Homo sapiens: one gene and its partners. The protein of the gene in region 2 purifies or fractionates together with the protein of the main gene of each other region. This does not show direct contact. Each region holds a gene or a part of one and is shown on either strand. Other genes may lie near its edges.

Evidence for each region.
Region 1: the proteins of LPAR6 (region 2) and PKP2 purify together in Homo sapiens (affinity purification with mass spectrometry; 3 studies listed by BioGRID and IntAct, with this or other methods). This does not show direct contact.
Region 3: the proteins of LPAR6 (region 2) and TSPAN15 purify together in Homo sapiens (affinity purification with mass spectrometry; 3 studies listed by BioGRID and IntAct, with this or other methods). This does not show direct contact.
Region 4: the proteins of LPAR6 (region 2) and MTX3 purify together in Homo sapiens (affinity purification with mass spectrometry; 3 studies listed by BioGRID and IntAct, with this or other methods). This does not show direct contact.

Annotation. Positions count from the first base shown.
Region 1 is NC_000012.12:32,872,747-32,879,783, forward strand, and holds part of PKP2 (plakophilin-2), read right to left. Parts: intron 6,287-7,037; coding exon 6,174-6,286; intron 5,798-6,173; coding exon 5,100-5,797; intron 1-5,099. UniProt on the Homo sapiens protein: A component of desmosome cell-cell junctions which are required for positive regulation of cellular adhesion.
Region 2 is NC_000013.11:48,410,613-48,417,710, reverse strand, and holds LPAR6 (lysophosphatidic acid receptor 6), read left to right. Parts: upstream 1-4,597; 5' UTR 4,598-5,287; coding exon 5,288-6,322; 3' UTR 6,323-6,573; downstream 6,574-7,098. UniProt on the Homo sapiens protein: Binds to oleoyl-L-alpha-lysophosphatidic acid (LPA). Intracellular cAMP is involved in the receptor activation. Important for the maintenance of hair growth and texture.
Region 3 is NC_000010.11:69,454,465-69,461,464, reverse strand, and holds part of TSPAN15 (tetraspanin-15), read right to left. Parts: intron 1-7,000. UniProt on the Homo sapiens protein: Part of TspanC8 subgroup, composed of 6 members that interact with the transmembrane metalloprotease ADAM10.
Region 4 is NC_000005.10:79,988,257-79,995,143, reverse strand, and holds the start of MTX3 (metaxin-3), read left to right. Parts: upstream 1-3,881; 5' UTR 3,882-3,905; coding exon 3,906-3,986; intron 3,987-4,480; coding exon 4,481-4,550; intron 4,551-4,907; coding exon 4,908-4,984; intron 4,985-5,899; coding exon 5,900-5,992; intron 5,993-6,499; coding exon 6,500-6,682; intron 6,683-6,828; coding exon 6,829-6,887.

The DNA of each region.
Region 1 (7,037 bases), on a different chromosome or scaffold from region 2:
AAATATTTTAAAGTAGGATGAAAGCAATGCTTTGGAAAGATGACTCTGGAATGGATATGTGTTTCTTGAAAGAGAGACAGCGTTGAGGGCACTATAAAAGGTTCAGCTGAGGCAAAAAAGCCTTGAACTGGGCTGTTAAAAATGGAAATGGAAAAAAAAGGTAGAGTTGAAAGAGATGAAAAATTAAAGAACTAAAGCAGGTAGTAATTAAGAGGACGTGGAGGGAAGTCAATATGATCTGTTTTCTGCTCTGCAGTGCTCTTGGTCACAAATTTGACTGTCAATCCTAGAGAAGATCCACCCTCTCTGCTTAGTCTCCCTCAACTAATCCCAGAGCACGATGCTCTTGTGGGTTTTGTTTGTTTTGCTTTGAGACAGGGTCTCACTCTGTTGCCCAGGCTGGAGTGCAGTGTCACGATCATGGCTGACTGCAGCCTGGACCTCCCAGGCTCAAGTGATTCTGTTGCCTCAGCCTCCTGAGTAGTTGGGGCTACAGGCATGCACCACCATGCCCAGCTAATTCTTGTACTTTGTAGAAGTGGGGTTTTGCCATGTTGCCCAGGCTGGTTTCAAATTCCTGGGCTCCAGCAATCTGCCAGCCTCAGCCTCCCAAAGTGCTGGGATTACAGGTGTGAGCCACCATGCCCGGCCCTGCTCTTGTGTTCTTTAAATTTCTGTAGACACTAATATGTATCACACAACCTAGCACTTGATGATATATCCTATTTTTCACTGCTCCTCTCCTAGACCATCATACATCTCACTCAATTTTCATCTTTTATTTATTTAATTATTATTTTGGAGACTGAGTCTTGCTCCTTCGCCCAGGCTGGAATGCAATGGCACGATACCAGCTCATTGCAACCTCCGCCTCCTGGGTTCAAGCAATTTTCCTGCCTCAGCCTCCTGAGTAGCTGGGATAACAGGCATCCACCACCATGCCTGGCTAACTTTTGTATTTTTAGTAGAGACGGGTTTTCACCATGTTGGCCAGGCTGGTCTCAAACTCCTGACCTCAAGTGATCCGCCCACCTCGGCCTCGTAAAGTGCTGGGATTACAGGCGTGAGCCACCGCGTCCGGCCCATTTTCATCTTTTGTGATGCTTACTGGGAAGGACCTATGAAGATCCTACTACTCATTTGCAGAACCATCAGCCTCCAACTGGTCATAAATCATGGTTTTAGAAAAATTCATCTATAATTTTTTTTGTGGTGATTCTTAAAAACCTTTTTCATCAGTTTGATTTAGAACATCGGTTTCATCAGTTTGTCTCTCTCACACTCCAAGTCTCAGTTTTTAGCTGCATTAGTAACTGTTTAACCAGCCATTCTTCTTTTGGAAAGCCAGGTCCATTGTTTAATACCTTAAGTCATTATGCAGGTTTATGGTTTTGTCCAGTTAATATTCAACATATATGAAAGAATACTCCTTTACATGTGGGAGTTTCACTAGGCATAAAAACTTAAATCCCCCCCAAAAAAGGGCTGGACAAAGTTTGACAATGCGGGACCAAAGAGAACACAGTGTGTGGTCTCAGGGCAGGTGTCCCAGGGAGCAGCCTGGGGAACTGAAATGAGGCGTGGAGCCCAGCAGAGGAAAGGGGGAGGTCAGACAGGCACAGGCACCACCTTGGGCATCTATCTTCCTCATTACACAAAATACGTCTGGCTCCCTCTCCTTTTCACAGAGAGCCAAATTTTCCTTTCATAATCAGAGAAAAAAAGTTGATTTCTATGATTTCTACTCTCTAGAATTTGGGGAAATCTCAGGAAGAGATTTCTTACTCATTATTTTTAAATTTCTTGACCCCAAGTGTTCCTTCTACTCTTGGAAATATGATTAAATATTATAATACAATTTACCCTGTCTATTAAAACAATAATCCAAAAATAGTATGACTAATACTTCTAGAATTTGAGCAACAAAAGAACCTAGATGGCAAAAAGTAAAATTTATATTTCATTTCTCCTTCCTTTAATTCCTTCACTCTTTCACCATATACTTATTTTTTGAAAGAAGATCTCATTCTGTTGCCCAGGCTGGGGTACAGTGGCACAATCACAGCTCACTGTAGCCTCAACCTCCCTGGCTCAAGCAATCCTCCCACTTCAGCCTCCGGAGTAGCTGGGACCACAGGTGGGCACTATCACGCCAGGCTAAGTTGTTTATCTTTAATAGAAGTGGGGTCTCGGGGTCTCCCTATTTTGCCCAAGCTGGTCTCAAACTCCTGGGCTCAAGCGATCCTCCAGCCTGGGCCTCCCAAAGTGCTAGGATTACAGATGTGAGCCACTGTGCTGGCCTCATCATATATTTATACAGTGCCTACTATAGGCCTACTTCCATTTTAGGGTGCTGAGAATATAAAGATGATTGAGCATTCACAAAAATCTCAAAGTCCAGAGGGAGAACAGATAAGCAAATGAATAGCCACAATATATTTTTCTGATAGAGACACTCACACAAGGCTGCTATCTGGGGCACCTAAGCTAGACTGGGAAGGAAGTGGTCAGAAAATAGGTGGTATCTGAGCTAAATCCAGAATTATAAGTAGTCAGACAAAAGTAGAGCTGCATATGTAAAGGTGTGGAGTGGGGGAAAAGAAGGAAAGAGAGAGAGAATGAATATGGATAAATATCTTGCATTAAGGAAAGTAAAGAGGTTCCAGGTGGTTTGGGTATTGGTATGTGGGTATGTTTGGGGATGGTGGTGATGAATGGCAGAGAAGAGTAGAAGGAGAAGAGGCTGAAGTGATAAGCAGAGCTGAAAACACAATGGGGCTTGTAGGTCATGCCTAAAAGCATGAACACTTAGTGGAATTATGGAAGGGTTATAAACAATCACATGTGGAAAGATAATTCTGACAGTCCTAGAGAACGGTTCTGACTGAGCAAGACCAGAGGCAGAGAGCCCTGTGTAATGGAAATGGAAAGAAGGGTAAAAATTCAAGACCCATCATAGAAGGAAAAATATGGCTTGGTGATAGGTGACTACAGAGGGAGAAGATAAGAATGACTTCCAGGTTTGAAAATAGTAGACTACAGCAGGAGGAGATGGGTGGAAGTTGAGGATAGGGAGATGATGAGTTTAGTTTAGGATATACTGAGTGTGAAATTTCCAGGAGGTTGTTACATTTTCATATAGGTCCAGAATTTGGCATCAAGGATGGAATTGCAGACAAAACTTTGAGAACCATAAGGATAAAAGTGAGGTACACAGAGCCTCTCTGGAAGAGCATCAAGACTTGGAATAGAAGGGTTACTGAAGATGCCTTCTTTGAGCAGGCAGAAAGGGAGCACGCAGAGAACACTAACAAAGAATGGCTGGAGAGGTGAGTGGAAAACCAGGGGAAGCTGGTGCCCTGAAAACCAAGGGATGAGAGAATTTCATGGTGTCTCAAACACCACCCACAGGTTGAGTAATATAAGCAGTGCTTATATTACTCAATATAGTGTCTGCTTAGGATGTAGCAGATAAGGCCATCATTGCTACATTTGTCAGGAGACTGTTTAGGTGGAATGGAGGGGACTGAAATCATATTGCAGTGGGTTGACGAGAGACTGGGAAGTGACAGGGTGGTTCAAGAAGCAAGGGACACAGAGATGGAGGGAGAGAATGCCAGTTGTTGGAGGATGTCAGATAATAATTTTGTTACTGTTAAAATCATTTTGCTAAAACTGTGGCTATCACAAATCCTAGGCTATGGTAGGCATTCCATAAATTTTGAATTACCTGTTTAAAAGCCTTTATCAGCTTTTTCCTCCATAAACAATGACCTGATACACTTTCTCTTTTTTTTTTTGAGACAAGGTCTCACTGTGTTCCCCAGGCTGGAGTGCAGTGGCACAAATCTTGGCTCACTGCAACCTCCATCTCCTGGGCTCAAGTAATCCTCCCGCCTCAGCCTCTCGAGTAGTTAGGACCACACGTGCACACAACCACACCCAGCTAATATTTGTATTGCTCGTAGATATGGGGTTTCATCATGTTGCCCAGGCTGGTCTTGAACTCCTAAACTCAAGTGATTCGCTCGCCTGGGCATCCCAAAGTGCTGGGATTACAGGCCTGGGCCACTGCTCCCGGCTTATTTTTCCTCTTTGTAAGTATGCTCATATTGCCTAAGGTCTGCTTACTATAAGAAATGTTAGAAATCTCATGGTGAATTTTACATCATAAAAAATATTTCCTGTGTTAAGATTAGATTAGCCCTCATCATTTTGAGAAGTAGTTTATTAATGATGCTACCTGGTCAGTGAGCATGCTGTACAATTTCACTTGAAGGGATGTTTAGAGGTAACAACTATCATTAGACAACTTTAGCAATCAAATGACAATAACATATCTAATGTTTTAGCCTAATGATGTTAGATCATTATTGCAGGAGTTACTGATCTAATCAGCCATCCATTTCTCAATCTTTCTCTTAGTAACGTGCACAGTTTATAAAATTTGTGATCAGGCATTAAACTTGAATAAGGGTTAAGTTCCAAACACTAAATTAGTCAAGCTATAAAGTAAATAGGAATGGAAAGGAATGACTTAAAAATTCAGTTATTTTAATAATTTAATACTGCCAAAAGAATACCCCTTCAAATCACTGACACTAGAAATCTAAAAGGTACCAAGTACCAAAGGAAGAAAAAAGACATCTAGAAGTCAGCCATCTTTCCTTAGCTCTTTTTACAGTCATAGTTATCCAAATGGCATTCGTGCTAAGAATAAGCATTTTTTCCTTTTATTTCATGGGATGATGAAGAAAATACGCATGCAATTCTCCAATTCTTGGCCTACTTTGGAGTTTAGAGCAGATTTTCATATGGCTGAGGGGTAGGGTCCCTTCAGCCAGCATCTAATCTGGAACAGATGGACTAAATGTCACATTTCCATACAAAGCTGCCATGTGAGCAGGTAGCTTGGCCCCTGTCCCTGAGGTAAATAGGCTGATCTGTCAATTAGGCAGCTGCCTGAAAAGTCATTATTTTAATCACTTATCTCTGGAAGCCCTTCTCTCAAGCCCCAGAAGTGCCAGCTCATGCTGTCAGGGCTGTGGGAACAGAATGTGCTGGCAATGACTGAACTGCAGAGTCAGGAGGGGACTTACCCCAGCTGGGAGTCAGTGAAAGTGCTTCTCTCAGTGAGCAGATTCCCACTTCCCCCTGCGGCCGCCTGGCCGACAGTCAAGTGCGCTCTCCTCCCGCTGGAATCCACGGCGACACTGGGCCCAGCTTCCCTCAGCGTGCGGGTGCTGTGGAAGGAGCTCTGATGCCAGGAGGACCTGGAAGCCCTGTTCTGAGTGACGGGCTGCAGGGGCACCAGCGGCCTGACCTGCCCGACAGTGAGCCCTGCCGTCAGGTAGTTCTCCTTCTCCAAGAGGTTGCCCATGCTGCGGCTGGTCCCTGGCCTGGGGTACGTGAGCAGGGCCGGGTTGGCAGGGATGCTGTCAAAAACGGTGTCGCTAACAGAGCCATGCTGGTACTGTCTGTGGTATGTGTCAAAGTGGCGCTGCCTGCTTGTGGTGCCAGCACGGCTGACCCCCACGATCTCGGAACGAGCATATCTCGGTGGCACTAGGAGGGCGGCCCGCCTGCTTTCTTGGTGGTGCAGGGTGTGCCCAGCCTGGCTTCTCTGGCTGTACTGGTAATCGCTGTGCGTGTAGTGAGCCCTCTCCGGGCTGCTGTCAGGAGAAATCTCCAGTCTCCTCAGAGGATGCCTCAAGGACCTTTCTTCCACGGACTTCTGGGAGCTGTACTGTGCTGTTCCTCTTCCCCAGCGACCTTCATAAGTGGCAGTTGTGCCAGCCTGCACATGAGAGAAATAAAGTTTAAAGGGGGCATAAATCAAATTTCAACTTTGCTGAGGACTAATTACTCTGGGACTATTACCCAACATGTCCGTTTCTCTGAATCAGATGACGAGAAGTTTGCCCCTTTCTGGGTAAAGGCTTTTTGAAAATAAGACTTGGTTGACTTGAGTCATATTTATTTGCACTAGGATGTAAGAATGTTTCACATCCCTAGTTTTCCATGGTATCCTCATAAATATCAATTTTCTCAAAACTCATTTAGGAAATGATAATACTTGGGAAAAGTAAACACTCAAAAATAATCTTAGGAAGTTTGAAAATATTTTCATGGTAGTAATCTGATCACTAGGGTTACATTCTTTGATATCCTACCTTTAGCATGTCATAGGTTTTAGGAACAGGGGAACGGCCTCCAACAAAATCATTTTCAACCAAGTGTAGGTTGTAGACATACTCAGGAACACTGCTGGTTCGGTGAAGATTTCCTGCAATCAAGCAAATATTAAAATAACTCAGAATACAAGTAGGCTAATTAATATTTACAGACTGTATAACAATGATGTATTAAACTTTTAAATTTAAGTAATGAAGGCCAAGAACAAGTATTAAACGTACGTTAATGTTTTTAAATGCTAGTTTCACACCACCCTGGGATATGGCAAGTGATCAAAGGTTATCAAAACATTCTCTACAAAAGTTTTTCAGCTGGGTGTGGTGGCGCACGCCTCTTATCCCAGCACTCTGGGAGGCAGAGGCAGGTGGATCACCTGAGGTCAGGAGTTCAAGACCAGCCTGGCCAACATGGCGAAACCCATCTCTACTAAACATACAAAAATTAGCTGGGCATAGTGGCGGGCATCTGTAATCCCAGCTACTCAGGAGGCTGAGGCAGGAGAATCACTTGAACTCGGGAGACAGAGGTTGCAGTGAGCCAAGATCACACAATTGCACTCCAGCCTGGGCAACAAAAGTGAAACTCTGTCTCAAAAAGAAAGTTTTGGCTGGGCACGGTGGCTTACACCTGTAATCCCAGAACTTTGAGAGGCAGAGGTGGGTGGATCACCCGAGGTCAGGCATTCAAGAGCAGCCTGGCCAACATGGTGAAAGCCCCTCTCTACTAAAACTACAAAAAATTAGCTGTGCGTGGTGGCAGGCACCTGTAATCCCAACTATTCGGGAGGCTGTGGCAGGAGAATCGCTTGAACCCAGGAGGTGGAGGTTGCAGTGAAGCTGAGA
Region 2 (7,098 bases):
TTTCAGCTCCATCAGGTCATTTATGTTCTTCTCTAAACTGCTTATTTTAGGTAGCAATTCCTCTAACCTTTTTTCAAGGTTTTTAGCTTCCTTGCATTGGGTTAGAACATGGTCCTTTGGCTTGGAGGAGTTTATTATTCTCTGTCCAGTTTTGTTCCCTTGCTGGCGAGGAGTTGTGATTCTTTGGAAGAGAAAAGGCATTCTGGTTTTTGGAATTGTCAGCCTTTTTGCGCTGGTTTTTCCTCATCTTCATGGATTTATCTACCTTTGGTCTTCGATGTTGGTGACCTTCAAATGGGGTTTCTGTGTGGAAGTCCTTTTTGTTGATATTGATGCTATTCATTTCTGTTTGTTAGTTCTCCTTCTAACAGTCAGGCCCCTCTGCTGCAGGTCTGCTGGAATTTGCTGGAGGTCCACTCCAGACCCTGTTTGTCTGGATATCACCAGCAGAGGTTGCAGAACAACAAAGATTGCTGCCTGTTCCTTCCTCTGGAAGCTTTGTCCCAGAGGGGCACCCACCAGACGGCAGCTGGAGCTCTCCTGTGTGAGTTGTCTGTCGATTCCTGCTGGGAGGTGTTTCCCAGTCAGGAGACATGGGGGTCAGAGACCCACTTGAGGAGGCAGTCTGTCCCTTAGCAGAGCTCGAGCAATGTCCTGGGAGATCTGCTGCTCTCTTCAGAGCCAGCAGGCAGGAACGTTTAAGTCTGCTGAAGCTGCACCAATAGCCACCCATAGCACCCTTCCCCCAGGTGCTCTGTCCCAGGGAGATGGCAGTTTTATCTATAAGCCCCTGACTGGGGCTGCTGCCTTTTTTTCAGAGATGCCCTGCCCAGAGAGGAGGACTCTAGAGAAGCAGTTGGGCTACAGTGGGCTCCACCCAGTTCAAACTTCCCGGTGGCTTTGCTTACACTGTGAGGTGAAAACCACCTACTCAAGCCTCAGTAATGGCAGAAGCCCCTCCTCCCACCAAGCTCCAGCATCCCAGGTCGACTTCAGACTCCTGTGCTGGCAGTAAGAGTTTCAAGCCAGTGGATCTTAGCTTGCTGGGCTCTGTGGGGGTGGGATCCACTGAGCTAGACCACTTGGCTCCCTGGCTTCAGCCCCTGTTCCAGGGGAGTTAACAGTTCTGTCTCACTGGTGTTTCAGGTGCCACTGGAGTACGAAAAAGAAAAAATCCTGCAGCTAGCTCGGTGTCTGCCCAAACGGCTGCCCAGTTTTGTGCTTGAAACCCAGGGCCTGGGTGGTGTAGGCACCCGAGGGAATTGCCTGGTCTAAGGGTTGTGAAGATCACGGAAAAGGCATAGAGTCTGGGCCGGAATGCATCGTTCCTCGTGGCACATTCCCTCATGGCTTCCCTTAGCTAGGGGAGGAAGTTCCCTGGCCCCTTGCACTTCCCGTGTAAGGCGATGCCCCACCCTGCTTTGGCTCGCCTTCCATGGGCTGCACCCCCTGTCTGACCAGTCTCAATGAGATGAGCTGGGTACCTCAGTTGGAAATAGAGAAATCACCCACCTTCTGCGTTGATTTCGCTGGGAGCTGCAGACTCCAGCTGTTCCTGTGTTCACCATTTTAACATCTATCTGGCTCTGTTTAATTTTCGCTCCCCCCAAAAAATCCATATAAGAAATAAGTTGATTCTCAGAGTTAAGTTCCAGAAGTGTAGAGATCTCACATTAAAATAACAGTTTGCCTGAGTTTATCAAATACAAAAGTATCTATTAAATATAATTGATTATATGGATTCATTACCTCCCTTTGCAAGTAGTTACTCTGTATTTTTCCAATTCTAACCTAAGAATTTTTCAAAGTTTCTAAATTCCCCTTTGGTTCCTTAATTAGAGGCCAAATTTAATATCTGGAAAAAATGCAGTATTCAATTATCTTCTTCCTGTTCAAACAGTCCCTCTGCTATGGCTCTTCCTCAGTAGAAACAACTGGCAACAAAATTCAAGTTTATGATTCATTCATCAGCAAACATGTGAGAATCATCTACAAAGAACCAAGAATTGTGGTAAGAATTATACAAACATTTACTATGATACTGATAATAATGAAAAGCCTAATTCAACAAATAGTGATCTATCCATTTTTAAGCCCCAGTAACTCAAACATTAAAAAACTATAAATGAACAGGCCGGGCACGGTGGCTCACACATGGAATCCCAGCACTTGGGGAGGCTGAAGTGGGTGGATGACTTGAGGTCAGGAGTTCAAGACCAGCCTGGCCACATGGTAAAACCCTATCTCTACTAAAAATACAAAAATTAGCTGGGTGTGGTGGCGGGTGCCCATAATCCCAGCTACTCGGGAGGCTGAGGTGGGAAAATTGCTGGAACCTGGGAGGCAGAGGTTGCAGTAAGACAAGATCGCACCACTGCACTCCAGCCTGGGCGGCAGAGTGAGAAAAAAAAAAGAAAGAAAGAAAAAGAAAAAGAAAAGAAAAGAAAAAACTATAGATGAATGACTTAAGTGAATAACAAGTCAAGTGAGTAATGACAATATGTAGAAAAATATTCCAAGTAGAATTAATAAATTTTAATTATTTGAATGAGAAAATGCCGCCATATTCAAAATGAAAGTAAAAGTAGGATGAGATCAGCATATACAACTGCATATATTTCATTAATTAAAGATGACTAAAGAGGAGACTATCAATTTGAAAGAAGATTACTAAGATTTTGTTTTTTTAAAACATACTGAACCAAATAAAAAAAAAATAACAGTAAGACATAACTACTAACAGAAAATTTTTTCCAATGAGAATACAAGCTTATTAACCACTCCTTTTTTCATTAATGCTCACTCAGCTTCTACCAGCCTTCTAATAAGAACACACACATACATCTTTTCTATACCAAATGTGATATAAAAGATATTCAACCCTTCAAAATTTTAAGTATTGGTTATAAGTAATACTCATCTTTTTTTGTCATTTGATAATAGATGAATTTTCTAGTCCAGACAGTAGAAATAGATTATAGTTCATCAACAAATGACAAAAATTGCTGAGTGTGAAAGAATGGTGCAAAACAACACAAAACATTTTACTGTAATAAGTTATTTTTAAGCTAGCTAAGTAATTTATGAGAAAAAAATAAATTGTTCTTAAATTACTTAATACCCAAGAGGAAGAGTTTCAGCTTAAACTAGACCAAATTAAAAAAATAATAACAGTAAGGCATAACTAGATCTAGCCTTTTCTGAAGAAAATGATATTTAAAACAAGAAAAACATGTGCCATAGAGGTTGTGATATCCTCAATCTTTGAGGAAATAACACCTACATTTAAGTACCCTCACCTTACACACACTTTCTTCTTCTGATTTTGGAGTCTTTAAAATATAAGTATACTTTTTTTTTTTTTTTTTGAGATAGTCTCGCTGTCGCCCAGGCTGGAGTGCAGTGGCTTGATCTTGGTTCACTGCAACATCTGCCTCCCAGGTTCAAGCGATTCTCCTGCCTCAGTCTCCTGGGTAGCTGGGACTACAGGCACGCACTATTGCCCTAGGCTAGTTTTGTATTTTTGGTAGAGATGGGGTTTCGCCATTTTGGCCAGGCTGCTCTCAAACTCCTGATCTCAGGTGATCCACCTGCCTCGGCCTTCCAAAGTGCTGGGATTATAGGCGTGAGCCACTGCACCTGGCCCAAAATATGAGTATACTTTAAATATAAACATATAAACCATTCATAGAAACTTTTAGATGGAGACAAAATCTGAAATATATTTCAATATATAGTTAATGTCATATTAAGGGGTTAAGGGAAGAGCTGGGAGGAAGAAGGAAGATAAGACTATGAACCTAAAATTTTGCCAAGTAGTAGGATTTTTATTCTCTAAACCTTATTTCAATCAATTTAAGGTTAAAAAAATTTTGCTTAAAAAGATGCAATTTCATTTTGTGCTTAGAAAGTAAAATTAACACCACACCAAAGATAAACATTCTTGAGTTTGTTCTTTTGGAGAAATGAGTAATTTAAAAATTTAAACAGCTCTAAAATATTAATACAACTGCATAGGAAAGAGGAAAGAATGTTAGAAAATTGCTTATCAAAAACTAATGAGACCCAGGATAAGAGCTACTCATAATGATAACAATTAAATATTGAGTATTTTTCAGAAACCAAGAGTCAAATGCTTGTTATACCTTAAAGGTTAAAGGCCCCTGTTTCATAGTCATTAAACAGTTCTTTGAAATGCTATGTTAAGATATCACTAACAATTTCAATTTATAAATACACACCCATACACATTTTCTTTTCTAAATTGTCATATCCCAAACACGAAAACAATCGAATAAGAGAACAGGCTGAATAGTGATTTTTTTCTTTCAATTATTACTACTGAAACAAATCAAAACAACTCTGAGAGGTTGCCAGCACCGCAGAAGGCATTTCCACATAAAAAGAGTTAATGAGCAGACCACGCAGTTCAACAGCCAGTGACCATTTGCAAGCCTCCTAGGTATATTCCCAGCAGACACATTATCAGATTAAAGGAAGTGCAAACAAACTGGGCTGAAAGTTTCTTTGTCCAAACCCAGCCTCTTCTTCCTGTGATGTCATATTACAAATCTAGGAAGCCTTTCTTTTTCACTTCAGAGAAAGCGACCTCAAGATACAACTGGCAACTGAGGAAAAGGCCTCAATTCAACAAGAGCTAACAAGCTTGGGAGTTTATTTCGGAATCTTTAAAAGACTCTTCTGCTTACCCACAATCTGGGATCCACTGCAGGAAAACAAAAAAGGAAAACTTCATTTAAAAGAAGCAAGAAGTAAAATGGGACAAATTGGGAATGTTTAAGTCTCTGAAACTCTGCACTGAAAAGAAAATAAGATTGATAACTTAAGCTTAACATTCTGAGGCATAAAGAAACATTAACTTTGGAGTATTCATCTTGACTACTGAAATACAAGTTTAGAAGACAAGTGGTTTCATTCTGGTCACAGATCACAGCTTTTCTTTAAATTTATAATCCTATGGGTTGGACTCGTTGACTGTATTTTTTAAAGGTTGCTCGTCAGTTAACTGAGCCTTGGAATTCATGGATTTTCTAAAGACTAACAAATGAAAATATTTTCCTGTTGAAGAACCCAGCGGAAATTTTACAGCAACAAATTTCATGTTTCTTTTGGGTATTTCTGAGAAAAAGGAAATATTTATAAAACCATCCAAAGATCCAGATAATTTGCAAATAAATTGGAGGTTATAGAGGTTATAATCTGAATCCCAAAGGAGACTGCAGCTGATGAAAGTGCTTCCAAACTGAAAATTGGACGTGCCTTTACGATGGTAAGCGTTAACAGCTCCCACTGCTTCTATAATGACTCCTTTAAGTACACTTTGTATGGGTGCATGTTCAGCATGGTGTTTGTGCTTGGGTTAATATCCAATTGTGTTGCCATATACATTTTCATCTGCGTCCTCAAAGTCCGAAATGAAACTACAACTTACATGATTAACTTGGCAATGTCAGACTTGCTTTTTGTTTTTACTTTACCCTTCAGGATTTTTTACTTCACAACACGGAATTGGCCATTTGGAGATTTACTTTGTAAGATTTCTGTGATGCTGTTTTATACCAACATGTACGGAAGCATTCTGTTCTTAACCTGTATTAGTGTAGATCGATTTCTGGCAATTGTCTACCCATTTAAGTCAAAGACTCTAAGAACCAAAAGAAATGCAAAGATTGTTTGCACTGGCGTGTGGTTAACTGTGATCGGAGGAAGTGCACCCGCCGTTTTTGTTCAGTCTACCCACTCTCAGGGTAACAATGCCTCAGAAGCCTGCTTTGAAAATTTTCCAGAAGCCACATGGAAAACATATCTCTCAAGGATTGTAATTTTCATCGAAATAGTGGGATTTTTTATTCCTCTAATTTTAAATGTAACTTGTTCTAGTATGGTGCTAAAAACTTTAACCAAACCTGTTACATTAAGTAGAAGCAAAATAAACAAAACTAAGGTTTTAAAAATGATTTTTGTACATTTGATCATATTCTGTTTCTGTTTTGTTCCTTACAATATCAATCTTATTTTATATTCTCTTGTGAGAACACAAACATTTGTTAATTGCTCAGTAGTGGCAGCAGTAAGGACAATGTACCCAATCACTCTCTGTATTGCTGTTTCCAACTGTTGTTTTGACCCTATAGTTTACTACTTTACATCGGACACAATTCAGAATTCAATAAAAATGAAAAACTGGTCTGTCAGGAGAAGTGACTTCAGATTCTCTGAAGTTCATGGTGCAGAGAATTTTATTCAGCATAACCTACAGACCTTAAAAAGTAAGATATTTGACAATGAATCTGCTGCCTGAAATAAAACCATTAGGACTCACTGGGACAGAACTTTCAAGTTCCTTCAACTGTGAAAAGTGTCTTTTTGGACAAACTATTTTTCCACCTCCAAAAGAAATTAACACATGGACATTTTAAAGTCTTTAGTATAAAGAAAATTTGTATTCAATGTGTTAAGCATTAACATGTATTTTATTTGTGTATCCACTCCATCTGATTTTTCTGAGCCATTTTGATTTGTTCCTTCATTAAAAAAAATCTCTTAAAGTTATTTAGTGTCTAAAAGTGACTGACTTAAATTATGTGGTGCCAATCTGTAATGTCTTTGAATTCCTTTTTATATTAAATGATTTAATTTACTAAATTATTTTATACTAATTTATGTTTATGTAATATTTTATTCAACATACCATTTTTATTTTGAATTAAAACTACTAATCATATTTCTTAAACTATGATTAACAAATGAGAAAGAAGAGTAATTTGAAATAAATGTTTTGGGAGTATTTTAAAATATATGTATAACTAAAAACGTAGTCTTCTGTAGAAATGATGACATATTAACATTGTTGGAAGATCTTGAGCAGTAACACATTGATAACATTTTGGGAGTTTGGTCTGTGTAGGCAATTTGTAGAAAGCAGATGCTATCTATATGGTATGCTTTGAAGTTACTATTTTGATTTTCTGTATATAATGCACCCAATTTCAAAATGATATATGCCACAAAAATTGAGAGGGAGAAAACTAATAAAATGTCATTTTGCTAAGTTTTTACTTAGCAAAAAAATAAAAT
Region 3 (7,000 bases), on a different chromosome or scaffold from region 2:
GGTTCCTGCTCTCCCAGGCAGGAAGTGGGAGGGCTCTGAAGAGGGAAAAACAAGCCCATCTGGGCCAAGGCTGTTTTCCTTCCACCCTCCAGTGAAATACTTGCTTCCCTGCAGGCCCAGATGCAAATGTCTTGGCGAGAAAGTCCCTTTTGGAAAAAATTAAAACCCAACAGTAACCTTTCCCACAGTGAAACAGTTCTTGTCCCAGGAACACATGCAAATGATGGTTCTCACACAAGTTACTTCCCCGCTCAGGGCCTTAGTCTCCTCCTCTATAAAATGGGACAAGGCACATGGGGTCATTCTGAGAATGCAAAGAGATGAAGCAAACTGTGGTGAGACACGTGGCAGACGGCGTCTCCTCCCAGCATCTGCATGAACGGTTACCCAGCCAGATGCCCACTCAGCGCTCTGTGGGCACTGCCTCATCTAAGCCTCACCCCTGTGGGCAGCACAACAGTTATCCCCTCCCAGCAGACAAGAAAACCAAGGCACAGAGAGTTGTCCATGACTTGTCACATGGACCTTCTCCTCACCCGCCAACCAAGAAGTGCTCATCCTCCTCAGCTCTGCTTGGCCTCCAGACCTGGTCTTCCCAGAGGACATTTCTGACCTCAACACTCAGGCCCAAAAAACATTCTGTAGCCCGCCCTCCCTCTCCTAAGACTCATCTCCACTCCTCTCTGCGAGGCCTCCCTGCCCAGTGAAGCCCTCAGAGTCCTCCCAAAGACTCCTCTGTAAAACAGGACAAGACCCCCTGTCCAGCCCAGCTCAAGGGTCACTCTGAGAATCCAAAGAGATGAAGCAAAATGTGGTGGTCAGGCCACCACAGTCAGGCAGCCTAGCTCAGACTGGCCCTTGATGGAACCAGCTCCTCCAGCCAGCTGGTCTGACCCCTTGGGCGTGCATGTGGTCTTTTCCAGGGACTGGGCCCTTCCCACCCCTTAGTTCCTGGGCTAACATGGCACATCGCCAGAGGCAGAGATGGCTGCCAGCTCCTTCACAGGCCAACCCTCTAGCTGGGGAAGGTGACATCGTAAGTCTACAGTGTCTCTACGGTGTCTCTTCCTCACCTCCACCAGCCCAGGGGCCTAGCTTGGAGCTGAACAACTCATGCTGACCGAGGGCTGGGACCCCTCAGAGCCTAGCAGGACACTTCTCAGACGGCCTGCCTGGCCCCGCGTGCCTGTTGTGGCCTAGTGCTTCTGACAGTGTGCCATGGTAGCCCAGAAACTAAGGGGTGGGAGGGGCCCAGCCTCTGGAAAAGACCACATGCACACCCTAGGGGTCAGACCAGCTGGCTGGAGGAGTTGGTTCCATAGCCATCTGTTCTAGGCAGGCTGAGTACCCCCAGGGGCAAAGGAGCCTCCTCTGACAAGACGGATTCCAGAGGTTCTCATCTCATCTCATCTCATCTCATCTCATCTCATCTCATCTCATCTCATCTCCCCAACTACCCCTGAGCAATGCAAGGCTCCCAGGTGACTCTCCCTCCCTCCGTGGGCAGGGAGCCCTAGAGTCTCCCTCCATTCGTGGGGGGGGGGTGCCTAGAGTCTCCCTCCCTCCGTGGGTGGGGGACCCTAGAGTAGGCCCCGTGCTTTGGCACCTCTCATCTCACAGGATCCTCCCCACTGCCCTCTGGGGTACCCACAGAGGAGGCATCTCGGAGGCTCAGAGAGCTGGTCCTTTACCCAGTGTCACACAGAATAGCCAACACCTGATCTAGGTCTCTGGATGGCAAGACCACAGGGCCTGACAATGAAACCCTGCTTCTCAGTCACTCGAACCCCAAACTCTTCACACAGCCAGGCCCCTGCCACCCTCTCCACCCACAGCGCAGCCCTTCCCGGGCTTCCTCATCTGCTGTAGCCATGCTTGCGACCTGCCTCAGGGACTTTGAACTCATGGCTCTCTCTGCCTGGGATGCTCTGGACAAGTCTTTATGGCTGGCTCCTTCTCTATTTGAGCTTCAGCTGAAATGTCAGCTCCTCATAAAGGCTTTCCCTGACCACATCATCGAAAGTGGAAACGCCCATCCCTCCCCACTTGCTCCCTAATTTTCTCCTTAGCACCTATCACAAGTGATATTTATTTACTGCTCTGTCTTCCAAGGCCTGGACTAAACCTGTCTTGTTCATAGTTGCTTCCCACACCTATCACGGTATCACAGTGCCTGGCATTCAGTAGGCATCAAATAACTATTTGTTGACTTAATGAACAAACCAACCAACCAGAGAGCACGGCTGGTTAAGACTGAATGCTCCTGCCTTCCAACAAGAAGTCAATTCAAACCCATTCACATCTAAAAGTTCTCTCTGGGAAAGGTTGTTTTGTTGTTGTTTTTTTTTTTTTTTTTTTTGTCTGTTTTGTTTTCCCCCCATCAACCTCTTCTGACCAGACTTACCCAGAAAACATCTTTCCCCTGTGTGGAGCCAGTTGGTACAGAAATTTCATTATCAGTCCCTTATCAGGTTGACCGTGAGCCCCACCCCAGGGTGGCACTGTGAGTCACCTGGGAAGAAAGGCCTCCGGGCAGGAGGGCAGGTGGTTATTCCTGCTTCTCCAGGAACCAACCCAAAGGCAGCAAGGTCCAGTCCTACGACATAAAGCAATTCCTCTATTAAAGCGGGGAACGAGACCATGTACAAAGTCTAGGTTAAGAGCGAAGGACACTTCTCAGGGCCTTAGTTTGCTCATCTATAAAATGAAGGTGTTGGAAGGTTCTCCAAACCCCTGGCAGGGCTGCAGCCCTGATTCTCTGGATTTTAAAGGCTCTGTGGCCAGACTGGGGGAGGGGAGGACCTCTCTGTGCCCGAGGCCTGAGCCCAGTCTGATGCTATGAGATCATCTCTGACAGCCCGTTAGGCACGGCTGGCCACTTCTCCAATATGAAGGCTGCCCCACTTTCAGCTTCACTATTTGAGTTTCACTATTTGGAATGCTTACCTAGAGCCAGAAAATGAACTTTGCTCGACAAATCAAACACAATAAGAAAGATAATTAAAGAAATAAAATGTCTACATATATGTACAAGATGTCCAGATGGATGTTTACCAACATATAACAGTGGCTGAATCCCAGTGGTAGAATCAAAGGGGACTTTTGCTGTTTTCGTTGTACTTTCCCAAATGGCTTGAATCTTTTAAGCTATGCGCATGTATGATTTTCACAAAAATAATAAAGCTCTTCTCGAAAGTAAAAATCTCCTGGAAACTGTCTCCAGAGAAGTGCTTTCTTTTTGGCCTGGCTTCACCTAGTGCTTCACTGGGAGGCCAGGGACGTGGCCTCTTTCAGAAAGGTTATCTTCTACCCTCACCCTGAGACCAGGGAGAAACATACATGGCGCCTGGAAAGGTCATGGGGGCCCGAGGAAGAAACTGGAGTCAGGCAGCCTGGATCTGGTCTTGGCCTGTCACTGACTTGCTGTGGGCTTTCAGGCAACTCACTTCTCTTCAGGCCTCTGATTTCTTATCGGTAAATTTAAAAGGCTGCACTAGAGGTGTCTTTAACAGCCCTTCTCATTCTTAGTCTATGGCTCTTGAGCAGCAAGGCTAGAGAGGAAGGCAGGAAAAGAACGACTAATCCATGACTAGTTGATGGAGTGTTCATCATGTGCCAGGCACCACTCTAAGCTCTTCAGATGTATTAATCCATCTAATCTGCTTAGCAACTCTTCAGGTAGGTTAGGTGCATGGAAGTTATGTCTAGGCCACTTAACCTTTAAGTGTCAGAGCTGGGATTTGAACCCAGGCAACCTGGTACACAGCCCACACTCTTAACCATTAAACTATAAGAAATGTAAGAAATCACAGGCCAAGCTCTAATAAGCAGGTTCATCCTTGGAGAAAGCCCAGAAAGAGTTCCTATTGCCTCTGGCATTTGCTGCCTCCACCACCTACCCACCCTCAGCTCCTCCCTACTTGCCCCCAACTCCCACCAAGTCCTTTTCTTCCTGATTAGTCAACACTCCCCAGCCATGACACCTTTACCCACTTGAAAGTCCTACCCTGTTATCAAGGAAACAGGCTTGGTGCTCTGTGGAGAGTCCGTAGCACCATGATCAGCCCTGCCCACTTTGCAAAGTCAAGGCCTCAGCAGACCTGACCACTGCGGGTTACACCCCCAGCCAGGCCTCTGCCCCAAGCTGGATCCTCGCCTTGTAGGTACAAGTGGGACTCAATCACCATCATGCAACATGCCTCCCCTGAGCACCTACTGTGTGCACAGGCCCCAGGGGCAGCATTCAGAGGAGGATATGGATGAACTACAATCCTGACCTCTGGGAGCCCACAGTCCAGCAAGGAAAAGCAGTCCTGTAAACGGATCTCTAAGATACCCCGTGGGCAGTGCTAAAATTAGAGGTGTGTCCCCAATGGGCTGAGGGCGCATGTGTCAGAATGATTCACCCTGTGTGGTGGGAAAAGGAGGCTCTAAGTGCCTCAGCGTGAGCTCATTTCTCCCGCAGACATCCCCATGACTTACTGGAAGGGCCAAGGAGCACCTACCTGAGGATGCAGGGACCTGGGGTACATGCCAGCTCTGACAAGTGAGCCTCAAACACACCCTTTTGCAGCCCCAAAGTTCCCTGCCGAAAACAAGAGGGCCCTGAGTGTGGGACAGATAACCATAAGTGGTTTAGGGGTATACCTATCATAGGGACTTACAGACTGAGCTTTCCTCGTTCAATGCCCTTTCGACCCCTCCGATTGCATCAAGGAGCGGGTCTCAGTTTGGGTGCTAGTTTGTCTTTCAGCCCCTCAAGCACTTGCCAACCTACCTTTTGAACAGAGAGGGTAGGCGTCAGGGTCACAGCCTTCAGCACCCATGACATCCAGCTAGGATTTAGTATCATTGTTTTGTTTTCCCTGTACTGTACTTATTTTAAACCTTTACCTGCTATTTATGATGGGCGTCTTGGTTTCCCATTCATAATACTGATATAAAGCCTCCTTTTAAAAATAAATTTAAAGGCGTGCATATTCAGGGCAACTTGAACCTATGTGCCTGGAAAATAAAAAATATATACTTTAAAAAAGGGAAAAAAAGGAAAAGAAATTTAAGTTTAAAAAGGAAGTTTAGGCTGGACACAGTGACTCACGCCTGTAATCCCAGCACTTTGGGAGGCCCAGGCTGGTGGATCATTTAAGGTCAGGAGGTCGAGACAGTCTGGTCAACATGGTAGAACCCCGTCTCTACCAAAAATACAAAAATTAGCCCATCGTGGTAGTAGGCGCCTGTAGTCCTAGCTACTCGGGAGGCTGAGGCAGGAGAATCGCTTGAGCCTGGAAGGCAGAGGCTGCAGTGAGCCAAGATCACACCATTGTACTCCAGTCTAGGTGAAAGAGCGAGGCTCTGTCTCAAAAAAAAAAAAAAGTAAGTAAATTTAAATAAACATATTAAGTAAATAATATTACAATTGGTGTCACCTCTATATAGGACAATTTAATAACATCAAAATGTTAAATGCACATACAAAAACAGGCAAAGCTATTCTATACTGCTAGATAATCCAGTGGTGATCACCCACAAAGGTAAGAGATAGTGCCTAGAAGAGGGTTTGAGGGGTATCTGCCTTCTGCTGTCCATTCTGCTGGTTGACCTGGGGGCTCAGTGTACAGGTGTGTTCACTTTGTGAAAACTCATCAAGCTGTATATACTGATGGCAGGTGCGTGTCTGCATGTATAACATATATTCATATACCCCTTAACTCAACAACCCCACTCCTAGAATTACTCCACAGACATATACACCCATGCAAAATGACACATTCAGAGATACTCACTGTGTCACTGTTCTCAGTGAAAGAAAGAAAGGAAGAAAGAAAGAGACGGGGGGGGGAGAGAGAGAGAGAGAGAGAAAGAAAGAAAGAAAGAGAAAGAAAGAAAGAAAAGAGAAAGAAAGAAAGAGAGAGAGAGAAGAAAGAAAGAAAGAGAAAGAAAGAGAGGGAAAGAAAGACTGGGAACAACCTAAGAGTTCCCCAGCTGGGGACTATTAAATAAATGTGGCATAGCCTAGAGTGGAATCTATGTAGCCAACACACAGAATGAGGCAGCTCCTAGCAGATCTCCATAATTCACGTGGATTTAAATTTAAGTGAAAGAGGGGCTACATACGTAGTTCTGTGTATAGTGTGCTACCTTATTTTAAATATACATATGTTTGTCCTAGGACATCCTTTGACTACGATAGCTCAGAAAAGAGTGACAGGAAACTGATAACAAAGGCCTCCTCTGGACTGGGCAGGCCAGGAGAGAGGGGTAGGAGGGGAGGCTTGTCACTAACCACTACCCTTTCCTTTTTTTTTTTTTTTTTTTTGAGACTGTCACCAGGCTGGAATGCAGTGGCGCTATCTAGGCTCACTGCAACCTCCGCTTCCCGGGTTCTAGCGTTTCTCCACCTCAGCCCTCGCTGTAGCTGAAACTACAGGCACACGCCACCATACCCAGCTAATTTTTGTATTTTTAGTAAAGACGGGGTTCCGCCATGTTGGCCAGGACGGTCTTGATCTCTTAACCTCACGATCCGCCCGCCTCAGCCTCCCAAAGTGCTGGGATTACACCTCACCCGGCCTTACCCTTTTCTACTTCTAAATTTTGTAACAAGCCCATGCATGCATTTCTATCAGTAGTAATTTATTTTTTATTTTTTATTTTCTGCAACAGAGTCTCATGCAGGCTGGAGTGCAGTGGCACAATCTCAACTCACTTCAACCTCCGTCTCCTGAGCTCAGGTGATCCTCCTACCTCAGCCTCCCAAGTAGCTGTGACTACAGGTGCATGCCACCACGCCCAGCTAATTTTTGTATTTTTAGTAGAGACAGAGTTTCATCATGTTGCCCAGGCTGGTCTCGAACTCCCAGGTTCAAGCAATCTGCCCATCTTGGCCTTCCAAAGTGCTAGGATTACAGGCATGAGCCACAATGCCTGGTCAATAGTAATTTTTTTTTTTAAACCGAGTCTTACACTGTCACCCAACTACAGTGCCGTGGCACGATGTCAG
Region 4 (6,887 bases), on a different chromosome or scaffold from region 2:
ATTCTGGTTCTCAAGTTAGTCAACCAATACTCTCCCTGAGCAGTCTCCAGCTTATAACCAAACCCAGCATTCGTTTACTCATCTTCAGATTCCTTGCCATAGTCAGTCCTGTTTCTATGCCTTCACTTATATAGCACAGCCCATATGCAATGCCTTACTCTGTGCCAATCTAAATGCAACGTACCCACCCTTCGAGATCAGCTATCATCTTCTTTCATTAGGCCTTTGCCAAGCATTGCAGTACATTCAAGCCTTTGTCTAAAACCATACTAGACTTGTCTTCTTGACAAAATGGTACTTCCTAATAGTCTCTAGTTAGTTCAAATATGTGGGCCTTGTTTCATCAACTGTGCCTCTAAAAGCTTGAACATAAGTTTTTGCACAATCACGGCTCACTGCAATCTTCTCCTCCTGGGCTCAAGCCATCCTCCCGCCTCAGCCTCCCAAGTAGCTGAGACTATAGGCACACACCATCATGCCCAGCTATAATTTTTGTGTTTCTGTTGAGACAAGGTTTCATCATGTTGTCCAAGCTTGTCTTGAACTCCTGGGTTCAAGTGATCCTCCCTCCCAAAGTGCTAGGATTACAGGCGAACATAAATTTTTATTCCCTGACAGGCTTGCAGTGTGCTAGGCATACAGAAGCTGCTTAATGAATTCGTTTAATGGTGTAATACTAAACAAATATTATTTACATAAATAATAACAATAATATCATGGCATTGATATCTCCACTTTGGGTGAAACTGGGCTTTTTAATGGACTACACAGGAGGCTACATGAGGCAGTATGACACAGTGGTTAAGAGTATAAACTCTGAAGCCAAAACTGCCTGGGTTCAAATCTTGGTTCTACCACCTACTGGCTATATGGGTACTGATATTTTCTTCTATTTTCAAGGAGGGACACAAAGATGTTAGTTAACCTTAGGAAGGTACCTGTGTCATGAAATCATTATGGAGATAAAGCAAGTTATGTTAGATACTTGAAACAACTTCTGGCATGTAGAAATTGCTCCATAAATGTCAGAAATTATTAAATGTTCATTACACATAAAATGATAGCATCTCAGAGATAAAAGAACTTTTGCTTTATAAATGAATGAGCAGAGGTATCAATGTAAAATGATTGGCCCAAGCGCATATGGCTAATCAGAGGCCAAGTCAAGAACTCAGCTCTCCTTTTTTCTATTCAGTGTTTGTTCTTTCCCCTCCTTAAGGATTTTATATCTGAACACAAATTACAGAATCTTCAAGTTCAAAGGGATATTTAAGACTTTACAATTTAATTTTCCCATAAGGGACCATATACTGTACCATCATTTGTCACAAACCTTTCATCTTTCCCAACAGCACCATTTCCCAGATTCTTAATCACCCAGACAAAAAGAGCCTAACAAACCTTGCACTGTGGCTCCCAAGTTAAGAAACACATGAAGGATGGGTATGGATGCCAAGGTCAGGTTGCCTGAGTTCAGATGACTATCACCAGATGAAACCATTCTTAATGATCATCTTTTGAAAAATAAGATTTCTTTTTTGGGGAAAACACTGTCTGGGATACTCATTATAAAGCTGTGATTCAGGCCATCCCACACAAACATGGATGTTTTGCAGACAGTATTCTTCCCGGTAGGAATCTGAAGTTATGATTTAGATGAACTCTGAACAATACTCTAAAACAGCCAGGAAAAGGCACAGGAGCCAACTAACCATACCAGGCATAATTTCTGAAGGCTTCAATTTTCTGTGTGGTTCTCTGGAACAGTATTCAGCCTGTTTGTGCAATCAGCTATGTTAGAGTTTTTTAAATTCAATCTAACAGATACAGACTCTCAAGAGGAACTGCAGCAATAAAAGATTGCTATTATCTATGCACTAATAAACCTGTGTGTAAGGATTCTTTCATCAGATGCAATGACATGCTATTCTGTCTCAATTCAACACTAAGGGAAGAGATTTAATTTCTCTTTAATGCAAATGAAATCACTGTATGTAGTAGCAGCAGTACGGAAGAAGGCCAAACTGAGTAACTGTGTTATGTGTCCACTAAGAATGTTCATTCACTCCTCTCAGTCCTGCTACAAACAAGGCTCAGGAAATCCACATTCTTTCTGTATGATTGTTTTAAATGCCTGAATGTAGTATATGGACCCTCAGCTTTATGGCTTAGGATTTTCTTTCCCCCTGCCTTGCCTTTGTCAGTCTATGGTTTGACATTTCTAACCCTCAAAACAGGGAGGTTCCATTACAATCTGAAAGTTGAATTACTTTACTTTCTTTATACTGAAGACTCAACAGATAGTCTCCACTGATCACACAGAGGATGCACTGTCCCTCCTTTGTGTTTCTGTAGTATTTTGCTTATATTTCTAACCCTACTCGTGATTATCTGACTTGTTACACCTTGGTGTGTGTATATCTCCTTTGTGCACTGTAAACTCCCGAGGACAGAATTCATGTTTTATATATTTCTGTATTGTTCCAGAACCTTATGATGTCTAAGACATAGGAGCTGCTCAATAAATGTTTCGACAGTTTTAATGGTACATATGTTATGCATTTTCCAATTATACAGTTATTATTAATGAATTCTCATTTCTGACATATCTCTTTTTCATTTCTTAGAACTCTTGGTTTTGAAACATGTAAAAAAGACTTTAGCAGGCTGGCACTGTAATTTGAATGATTATGTAAACAGTAAGGGAGTGCCTAGCAAATATTTGTTGAATAGTAATTTTACGAAAAGTTGCAGAGGTTTCTTTTGAGTTTTAGTTAAGAAGATCCGACCATCTCAGTGGAATAGAGGAAAGAACTCAGAGGCATGACTGCGAGGGTGTCCCAGAAAGACTACTGTGCCTTCTAGAAAAAAGACCCAGCACCCAAGTTCTAACTCTGAGACCCAGTCATATGTTTGGATCATAGCATTTCCAAGACCAAAATTTCCTCTTTAATAGTTTTTCTGAGAAACTGTCAGGTTTAACGTCAAGAAACATTTAGTCTGTGCTCATTAGGCCCACAGACATGACGAGCTACATGATTTGAGGGGCCCAGTCCAAAATAAAAATGCAGAGCCCCTTGTTCAAAACTTAAGAATTTCAAGACAGTGACGGAAGAGCATCAGCCAAATGAGGAGCCTTTTTAAGCACAGAGCCTTGTGTGGCTGCACAGGTCCCAAACCTATGAAGCTAGCCCTCTTCTGTGAAAGGCAAAAGGTCTGTAGCTAGGGAGAGAAGCTACAATTCAAATATGCACAAGGGGCTACAAGAACCCAGAGCTCCTAACTTTGTAAAAACATCACAGGGAAGGTGAGTTAAGCTCATTTTTGAGGGAGCAGCTGCATAGGGAAGAAAGATATTCCAGATTGAAGGACCAGCACTGAAGGTGGGCACAATTTACCTGACGTTCAGAAATACTGTAACTTTTAAGCAGGGTTGTGCCAGTGAACATGAGGGTGAGAACAGGTTGAGGCTGGAAAGGCAGGCAGAGGCCACATACATGGGAGAAGGGGTTGAACAATTACTGAGTGCCTCCTGTGTGCCAAGTTCTTTCTCTCCGACATTGTAAATACCACAATCTTGTAAATACTGGGTCATCCCTGTTTTACAAACAGGTTAATTTAGGCATCACACAGATTTAATGTTCAAAGGGTTTGGAACACTCTAGGGATCTAATAAATATTAATATTTGAAGAATTACTGGTGGGTCTGACTTAAGGCACACAACTCTTACCCTTTAGGCCAAGCTGCTCCTAAGAGTTCTTCTTAATCCCTCCAGTCGTTGTTTCTCTCATCTCTCAAGAGCCCCCAAATTACCCTTCCCTCCCTTAGCCACGCCCCCGCGTTTCACGTGCCGGAAATTAGGAGGAAAAGTACTTCCGGGATAGTAAAGGTCGGCCCGCGCAAGATGGCGGCCCCCTTGGAACTCAGTTGCTGGGGAGGCGGCTGGGGACTCCCATCGGTTCACAGCGAGTCCCTGGTGGTGATGGTGAGGCCGCCTCGCGGGCCAGGGCGCAGGAGGAAGGGGCGGGGCTGGAGGCGCCAGGCTGACTTGCCCCAGTTTCCCGCTGCGCTGCGGGGTCCAGGAGGGCCGAGCCGCTGCACGCTGCATTGCCCTGGGCTCCCTCCCACCGACGAGTCCCAACCTGGCCGATACCCCCGCCGAAGGCCGGCGGCGACATCAAGGCTTCTCCGCTTGGCTCCGAGTTTTGTCCGCCTCACAAAGCTGTCTGGGCGGTGGAGTGAAACCCCGAAGCAAGGGGCGCGCCCTCCCTACTCTGCATCCCCAGGACCTTTTGGGGAGCAAAGTCCTCGAAAGCCGGGTGGCTGGCGCCCGCGTCCCTACTTGAGATCACGGGGAGGGATGCGGCCTCAGTATCAGTCGCCTTCTGCCTTTGGGGGATGGGGCTGTGAAGTAAAGCTGCTCTGCAGCTTTGCATTACGCACTTGGTCTAAAATGTTTGATTGCAAACTCTGTTTCAGGCTTATGCCAAATTTTCTGGTGCACCCTTGAAAGTCAATGTGATAGATAACACCTGGAGAGGTTCAAGAGGTATAGTGTAAACCTTTACACTCCCCTTTCTGCACTCTTTTTTTTCTTCTTCCATTTAAAGCTGTGAGGTATATAGCTATAATATTGAGGATTTAGTTTCTTACCGTGACCTTGGCTCTGTGTTGTTTATGGTTTGATCATTCTGAGTAATACCTCAAAGTGCAAGCGAAATCACTGGAAATTATGAGAAACGAAAATGTTCTTTAGAACCGCTCTTTGTGAAACAGCAAAAAAACCAAGACAAGCTTACTCATTTTTTCCCCTCTAAATGTGCAACTGCTATAGTTTTTAGGATATTGGAATCTCTCAGAGGAAATCACACTGTGTCCTTGTATGTAAACTGTTTTTTGATTATAGGCGATGTACCAATTTTGACAACTGAAGACGACATGGTTTCTCAGCCAGCAAAAATACTAAACTTTTTAAGAAAACAGGTGGGTGGTTCACTTTGAAGAAGTAGATTGGTAGATTGTTGATCCCTGCATGTTGGGCTTTATTTTATTTATTTATTTTTTTTTGCCAACTCATTAGACAATTGGAGATACCTGGGACAAGATGTAAAAATAGATTTGAGAATCACTGCTCTAAAGCATGAGTTCTGTGATTTGAAAGTCATATGAAGAGGTAGTCAGTTTATATTTTAATAAACTTTGCTTGAATTTTATTGAAATTTGTATGTAAGTAGATTTAATTAGCCATTTTCACTATTAAACTTATTGATAGGATTGTGTATTTTGTCACATAGTTGGTACACATTTTGTGCTGGGCATGACACCTGAGCTCTCACCAACTAGCAACTATATTATTTTTAAAAAGCTCTTAATAGCAGTTTTATGGAATAATGTATCTAAATGTTTTAACAGTAGAGAATTATGTATCCAAAATGTTTAAACATGTAAAGATTTATATGAATGGATAAGTTATTTGTTTTGCCAATACTGTACTTAAAAAAATTGTGTCAATAACATTTTGAACTTTTATAAATTGGAAGGTTTTTTCTTTTGTCTTGGGGAGAAACACAGCCAATTGGAACTGTTTCCTTCTTGTTAAAAATAATAGTTGCTTTGTTTGTACTACATGCCATGCACTGAACTAGGTCATTAACAAGCATGAAAATAATAGTAGTTAATATTGTAACATTTATTGACCATATTGTGTATGTGATGCTGTGCTAAGAACTTTATGTGCATTAAGCAATAGGTTTCACTGGATTTGTATTTCTCTTTCTCCCATTTTAATACCACGTTTGCTATTTGTAAGGAAAAATATGAATCCTGATTTGATTAGTTTTACTGTCTTTGGGCTGCTCTTTGACTTCTGAGTTTCTTTGGTTTATTTTTTTTTAATAGAAATATAATGCTGATTATGAACTCTCAGCAAAACAAGGGGCAGATACATTGGCTTATATTGCTCTCCTCGAAGAGAAGCTTCTCCCTGCAGTGGTGAGTGTTCTTAAATATTACAGTATTTTAGTAGCCTAGTTGCAAATGTACATAGTCTGTTTAGAAAAAAACCAATGAGAAAAGTCTTAAGAGAAAATTTTACTTATATGTTAATCTTAATTCCTTCATATTACTGTGAAACTGGATTCTGTTAGGCATTCAACTAGTATGTGAAACAACAAAGTAAAATAAAATGTCATGTTGGAAATTCTTTGTGGGAGATGGATCTTTTTGCTCCATGTATAGAATTGGGTGTAATTCATTCATTCAACAAATGTTTATTGAACACCTGCTATGTGTCAGGCCTTGTTCTGGGTGTTTGGAAGATAGCAGTCAACAAAACTCACACATTTAAAATAATCTTGTTTTATCCTGAGTCATTCTAACTGGAAAATTTGTATGAAGACACTTCATATAAAGATATTTATGAAAAACTCTCATGTTGATTGAGTGATCTTTCATTTAATAAAAGAACATCCTTGTAGTGTTTTTTCTCTTCTTTTGCAGCTTCACACATTCTGGGTTGAGAGTGACAATTACTTTACTGTGACAAAGCCATGGTTTGCTTCACAAATTCCTTTTCCTTTGAGTTTGATCCTGCCTGGAAGAATGTCTAAGGGAGCACTGAATAGGATTCTCCTGACCAGAGGACAGCCTCCCCTCTACCACCTCCGAGAAGTGGAAGCACAGGTATAGTATGGATTATTCTTCAAGCAAGGGCCCTAGAGAGAAAGGACAAGATAAAATGCAGACTTGAGTTTACCTAGAGATGCCTTCCTCAAAAGTAGTTTTAGAGTATCTTTTCTACTTTTGAGATATAATTTCATCCTTATTAGATATACAGAGATGCCAAGGAGTGCCTAAATCTTCTATCAAACAGATTGGGAACATCTCA